Linked DNA regions of Homo sapiens. The protein of the gene in region 2 interacts with the protein of the main gene of each other region in a biochemical or structural test. Each region holds a gene or a part of one and is shown on either strand. Other genes may lie near its edges.

Region 1 (3,650 bases), on a different chromosome or scaffold from region 2:
CTTGGGAGAGGGTGTGCCTGTACAAAGGCTAGGAGTTTGCGGGCGGGACGGGGCTGAAGGAATGGGGACAGAGCGTGGGTGGTTAGAATTGAGACTAGAGAGGTAAGTAATGATTTGTAGACTATGTCAAGGATTTTGGAAACTGTCCGGAGAGCATTGGGGAGCCATAAAAAACTTTTGAAGTAGAGGAGTGCCATGACCATATTTGTTATTTTAAAAAGATGTCTTTGCTGTATATAGGGTTAAAAGGCAATGCCAGGAAGCCACATCAGAGGCTACTGTAGTGGTCCAAGCAATGGGTGCTGATAGCATAGACTAGAGAGGTGGCAGTAGAGATGGTGAGACCTGGGCAGGCTTGAGAGAGAGCAGATAGAATTGCTCAGACCTGGAAATTGATGTTGGGAGTGAGAGGGAAGGGAAGTAGCAAGGATAACACCCATGGGCTTCTGCACGAGCTGCTGGGTGCATGTTGGTGCCATGTACTAAGAGTACTTAAGGAGGAACAGGTTTGCAGGAAAGGATGGGCCATGTCAGATGTGTGGCGTTTGGAGTGGCGTCCAAATGGACATGGCACTAGGTCGTTTAAAAGATCTAGAGGTCGAAGGAGACTGTGGGCCGGAGGGAGCACTGGGGAAGGCGTCAGTGTGACGGGTCCTTGCCCCAGCCCATGGGAGTGTATAGAATGACAAGGGCAGAGTCAGGACAGCCCTGAGCACCAGCTGTGTCGCTTCAACTCCGTTCCTTTTTTAAAATGTTAATTCACTAGGAAGACCAATTTCTTTAAACACCTCTCTTGAGACATGAGAAAGAAGATAAAAGTAGAAGAGTTTTGCCACCTCTCTTTGGAACCAAGTGAGAAAGACAAGTGTTAATGATGAGCTGAAATAACTCCCCGTGTGAGTGATAACTAACGTCCTAAATCTTGGTCCCAGTGATTACGACTGAAGCATTCATATGATATGAGCTGGGTATACTCTAGGACACCGAGTTTTTTCATGAAGTTGAAACTCTTGCATGCTGTCAGGGAGTTTGCGACAGTCTAGGTACTTTAAACAAATGCGCTTACTAATTGTGTAATGATGTCACTGAGCTTGGCACCCCATGTAGGGATTCTGTCTTTCCTGTCCCCTATTCCCTGTCCCCCAACCCCTTGCTTCATTAAGACTTGCTGATTCAAACTCACTCTGGTTGAGGTTGAGTGTTTCTCTTTGTTCCAAAGGGTAGTGGCAGGCATATTTAAAGTAACAATTGTACAGAACACTCTTTAATGATGGCCTCTTATTTGAATCATCCCAGACAAAGAAATATTGCTAGATCCTGTAAATCTTCCAAGAAAAGATTTTGCGGATTTTAGACCCACATGTATGTTGTTTTGTTGTGAAGTATCTGGCTTCTCTCAATGTAGGAACTTTTTATTTTATTTTTTTTTGAGAGGAAGTCTGTTGCCCAGGCTGGATGGAGTGCAGTGGTGCTACCTCGGCTCACTGCAGCCTCTGCCTCCCGGGTTCAAGCAGTTCTCCTGCCTCAGCCTCCCAAGTAGCTGGGACTACAGGCATGCGCCACCACGCCTGGATAATTTTTGTATTTTTAGCAGATACGGGGTTTCACCATGTTGTCCAGGCTGGTCTCAAACTCCTGACCTCAAGTGATCCGCCCATCTTGGCCTCCCAAAGTGCTGGGATTACTGGCATGAGCCAGCATGGCTGGCCTCAATGTAGGAACTTTTGCAGTAGCTACGTAAAAAATAGATTCCGTATGGACCTTCCATCATATGCAGAGCCCTCTTGTCTTCCTTTGTAGATTATTCACTGACCAGCGCTGACCTGTCAGCCCTTCAAGGCTTCAACTCGCCAGGAATGCTGTCGCTGGGACAGGTGTCGGCCTGGCAGCAGCACCACCTAGGACAAGCAGCCCTCAGCTCTCTTGTGTGAGTAACTAGAAGTTTTCCCTGCATCTTTACTCCTGGCCTACACACTCTCTTTTCCTATCAGTGACAGCCTTTTGCTCTGTTGAGTTTCGTGTGAGGAATCCTGTAATGATTCCTTTTCAGGTAGATACAAGTGTCGGGAGAAAATATTTTCTTACATGGCTCTAGACAGTAGCTTGGATACTGACAAACTAGGCATTCCTTGAAGGGATTTGGGGAGCAAGGCTTCTCCCATAGGGACATCCTGAGGTAGAGAGACTCAACCAGGATCTGAAGGGGTCTGAAGGCACAGATACCACCCGCATGCACCATCCTTCTGCCCTCTGACCAGTGATGAAGCTGCCTACTGCACCCCTGCTCCCAAGCACCTGCCTCTGGCTGCACTGCTTGAAAGGCAGCCTGTAGGCATTCAGGCCTCCCTGCCACCCTTGCCATTGACTGCTTTGGTGAGTATCTGTAGACAAGAATAGGAAGACAAGCTGGAGCTTTTGCTTTCTCCCTGGGCCACAGGGAAGGAAAACTGGGGACAGGGTGTCTTATATATCAGTCAGGCTCCATAGGATTTGTGTGACTGATCCCAGCCCAATGCACACACCAAACCTCATTCACAAAGAGAATGTTCCGTATGGGCAGGGTGTAAGGATATAAGCAAAGAGGATTTACAGTGGCGCCCAGATGAGGCCAGACATCCCTGACAGCCGGGAGAAAGAACAGGGCTTTTGTGGAACCAGGATGACAGCAGACCCATGGAGCAGTTGGAGGAGAGTGTCCCAAGAGAGGGGACAACATAGCAGACCCAGCTGGCCTCCATGAAGACTGGCTGCCTTGCCTGTGCTCTGGGCAGTAGGAATACCCCAGGCCCCTAGCCTCTGCCCAGGAAGTCCCCAGAGAGCCTGAGCTCAGCAGTCCCTTTCCCTCATCCATTCTGAAGTAACTGCACAGTGAGGATTGTTGTCAGTGGTCTTCTTAGGAATTATGTCATGGAAAAAGCAGCAGAGTATCTCAGGGAAATTTGCCTACACAGGATTTGGCCCTCAGGCCTGTCCTGAGCATCCTAAATGAATGCACTAAAAATAGTCCTGGAAAAGCAAGTGGAAAGGGCTCAGAGCCCAGGCCCGGGGAACAGCCTGTTTGCGTCCTCCTCTACTGCTCTCAGCCAGCCCCTCATTTCCTCATCTGGAAAATGGGGATGGTGCGACTTGCACCTTAGAGGTGTTGCGAGGATGAGCGATGTTGTGCCCTGTCACAGGGCCAGAGCAGATGGGGAGCAGATGCTGAGGAAGAAGAGGCGGTGAGCAGATGAGGCTGCTGTTCCTCTGTCTTTCTGGTCCCTGCACAGCATTAAGACACTGACATTGTTTTGTATACTTTAGCTGCAAAAGTACCAACGTTGTGGGTAACAGAACCAAGTAACGTAAGGGCTCAACGGTACTGTTTTCTTTCCTCCTAGGAAGATGGGATTTCCTTTTGTGCCAAGCACTGAAGGAAACGACCCAAACCAGTCTTGGGGAACTCTGATAAGATTTCAGACTCTGGGCCCTTTTCCATCAGGCAGTGTCTCTACTGTATCATCCCAGTTTTGCAGAGGTACTTGCAAGCCATCTGACCTCTCTCTTTTTTTTCCTTCAGTGCTGGAGGGCAGTTATCTCAGGGTTCCAATTTATCCATTAATACCAACCAAAACATCAGCATCAAGTCCGAACCGATTTCACCTCCTCGGGAT
Region 2 (3,650 bases):
AACTATTTGCACTGCCTAATAATTCCTTCAGAAAAAATTTTAATCTGGGCAATGAGTGCATTTTTGATTTATCAGTTCTGAGGAAGAGACATGACTCTAATGGGTTAAATGGGTTAAGTCATTACCCCTCACATAAACTGGGCAATGACACTGGTGGAACTGCTTTCCTACACTCAAGCTCTATTCCGAGTGACTCAGCAACCCCTTTTTCACAAGAGGAGGTTAACTGCATAAGAGAAGGTGCCACCGCGCAACCTCAGCAGCCCACATCTATCAGAAAGGAGACTACTAAAAGTAGCATTGACAAGTATGCCATTCCTTTAATGAATGAGTCCAGCTCCCCATCTATAAAATGGAGTTAATAAATATGAGCCTCCATGGAGCTAGTGAGAACTGATTGATAATGCTTTGAATGAAAACACTTTATAAACTGCAAAAATCCCTAAAAATGTCAGTTAATTCTAAAGTGAGGGTGATCTACCCCAGTGAATTCTTCCATCTTTGAATTCTAGGCCCCAGGGGCTCAGCAATATCTGCACTCTTGCCCATGAAAGGCAAAGTCAACACATCATCTCTGAGACTGGGCTAGAAAGAAATCAAAAGCAGAGTACTCCTCAGTATCAAGAAATCAAACTGGCAGAACTGAAAACCTGGAGATCCAGGATAAGCTTATTTTAAAGAAGAACCAGTGGAGGCTGGGTGTGGTGGCTCATTCCTGTAATCCCAGCACTTTGGGAGGCCAAGGTGGGCAGATCACAAGGTCAGGAGTTCGAGACTGGCCTGACCAACATGGTAAAACCCCGTCTCTACTAAAAATACAAAAATCAGCCAGGCATGGTGGCACGCACTTGTAATCTCAGCTATTCAGGAGGCTGAGGCAGGAGAATTGCTTGAACTCGGGAGGCAGAGGCTGCCGTGAGCCGAGATTGCACCACTGCGCCCCAGCCTGGGCAACACAGCAAGACTCCGTCTCAAAAAAAAAAAAAAGTGGAAAAATGGGATTTGATAATAAAATGACTTTATAGCCAGCTTCGAATGAACTCTTTCTTAAAACAATCTTTATACATCAATAATACAAATGCTTGCCGTTAATTATGTTTAAAGACTTCTTATTGACTGGCACTGGTAACATACAGGCAACTACCTTACTTTTGGTTACAAAGAAAAGAATGGAAAGCTCAGCATGGACCTACTATCACTACTAGAAAAGTAAAGGGCACACCCTTCTCACTGGTCAGGAGTCAAGAAAGTCACCCTTGTATACTTAATAATCATGCACTTTTATTTCTTTGTGCCCTGGCTCATTCTAAAAAAAAAAAAAAATAGATTTAAAATGGTGAATGGCCATTAATAGTTAAAAAAAGTTAGCTTCACTTATTTCTTTTATACTAGAATAATCTTGTTCCACAAAGCACTTAGGAAGTTGTATTTGATTTCTTAGCAAGTTTTGCTATCCTTTTACCAAAGGTTTTGTTATATACTTTTTATGCTGATGATAAAGTGCACAGCACAATGCTAGAACATAGCAAGCAATCCACAAAATGTAGTTATTAAACCCACTAGGCTGTAAGTTCCAGGAGAGAATGGATTGTCTTGTTTCTGTCTTGTTTAGCACTCTATTTCCAGAACCTAGCTATCTGGCCCATGGTAGGTATTCAATAAACACTGTTGAATAAACAGTTGAATAAGATCTAAGAGTAATTCTCAACTGTCACCTCCTATTTCATGGTTACCAGTGTCCCACCTCCTCTAATCAACAGCAAGGGCCTGGAAGAACCCTACCCCAGAGGAAAGGCACTTAAGTTCCTGTTTGTATTTCCTTAAACTCACCACAAAGATTCTCCCCTTCTGTCCCAAAACCCCAAAATCAATGCTTTGCAACAATGTATTCTTAAACAATTTTGCTTCATTTCCCCTCACAGACAATGCATAAAGTTCCTTAAAACTGCAAGACCTAGTCTAGTTCCCTTTACCCTTTAACGGAAAGGCATATTTGTAAAACTCTATTTTGATTCATAGTTGGTTATCACACAGGCTTCTACTTGTTTTTTTACTATACTTAGTATAAATTAAAATAATATAGGCTTAAAATAATTTGTAAATGTTACAAAGTATACCACACTTTAGAGCAATAAAATTCGGAAACTGACAAATATTTCAATGAATGAATTTTATTCATTGAAATATTCTATTCATTTATTTTCATTCTTGAAAATAAAATTCAGGGGCTGGGTGTGGTGGCTCATCCCTATAATCCCAGCACTTCGGGAGGCCAAGGTGGGGGAACTGCTTGAGGCCAGGAGTTTGAGACCAACCTGGGCAACACAGTAAGACCCTATCTCTACAAAATAAATAAATAAATAAAATAAAATTCGGAGATTTTTTTGGAAGTAGACTTCAGGTCCAGTTCAAGAAGTCACACAAAAAATTATGTGTTGTTACTTTATAGTTATAACTCCTATCTGACCTAAAACAGTAGTATCACCAACCTGATTGCCTTATCTTTCTTATCAGACTTGAGTCCAAATTCCCTAAATTATTTGGATTCAAATGAACTGTTATTCCCTAAAATCAAATCTGCTCTCAAAAAAATGAAGATGGATGGCCAGAGACGGTGGCTCACCCCTGTAATCTCAGCACTTTGGGAGGCCAAGGCAAGTGGATCACCTGAGGTCAGGAGTTAGAGATCAGCCTGGCCAACATGGTGAAACCCTGTCTGTATTAAAAATACAAAAATCATCCGGGCATGGTGTTGCGCACTTGTATCCCAGCTACTTGGGAGCCTAAGGCAGGAGAATCGCTTGAACCCATGAGGTGGAGGTTATAGTGAGCAGAGATGGTGCCACTGCACTCCAACTTGGACAACAGAATGAGACTCTGTCTCAAAATAAAAAAGAAGAAGAATATCACAGGCTCCAAAGTGGATTCTAAAAGAAGTTCCAAAAAATGTTTTCTGCCACACCTAAAAAGGTACTCATTGAAAGAACAACTTCAGGCTGGGCACCGTGGCTGAGGCCTATAATCCCAGCACTTTGGGAGGCCAAGGAGAGCAGATCACTTGAGGTCAGGAGTCTGAGACCAGCCTGGCCAACATGGAGAACCCCGTCTCTACTAAAAATACAAAAATTAGCTGGGTATGGTGGCGGGCACCTGTAGTCCCAGCTACTAGGGAGGCTGAGGCAGGAGAATCGCTTGAACCCAGGAGGTGGAAGTTGCAGTGAGCCAAGATGGCACCACTGCACTCAAGCCTGGGCGACAGAGTGAGACTTCGTCTCAAAGAAAAGAAAAACTTCAAATAACTACGCTGAATCTCTGAATAAGATAACACTTAATTGTAAATCTAAATTCTGGTATTTTCATTCCAACATTAGTTATAATTTGTTTATTGTCAATTGTCATACAATTTCAGTTTCAGTTGTATTTTCTTTCACCAATATGCTGTAGGTTACATCTTAAATCCCTTTAGTAGAAAGACTACTAAACAAACAAGCAAATAAAAAAAACTGCCTCTCTGGAAAGACACAAGACACTTAACAGTGCCTGTCTTTGAGAGAGTAGAGTGGCTGGAGAACAAAAAGGAAAGGAGACTTTTCACTGAATATCTTTTTTTTTTTTTTTTTTGAGACGGCGTCTCGCACTTTCGCCCAGGC

What was found. Proteins that work in one complex are often made in the same cells at the same time.
Region 1: of the proteins of MAPK14 (region 2) and MEF2A, one has a biochemical effect on the other in vitro, tested with the Homo sapiens proteins (2 studies listed by BioGRID).

Annotation. Positions count from the first base shown.
Region 1 is NC_000015.10:99,708,834-99,712,483, forward strand, and holds part of MEF2A (myocyte-specific enhancer factor 2A), read left to right. Parts: intron 1-1,800; coding exon 1,801-1,927; intron 1,928-3,556; coding exon 3,557-3,650. UniProt on the Homo sapiens protein: Transcriptional activator which binds specifically to the MEF2 element, 5'-YTA[AT](4)TAR-3', found in numerous muscle-specific genes. Also involved in the activation of numerous growth factor- and stress-induced genes.
Region 2 is NC_000006.12:36,030,658-36,034,307, reverse strand, and holds part of MAPK14 (mitogen-activated protein kinase 14), read right to left. Parts: intron 1-3,650. UniProt on the Homo sapiens protein: Serine/threonine kinase which acts as an essential component of the MAP kinase signal transduction pathway.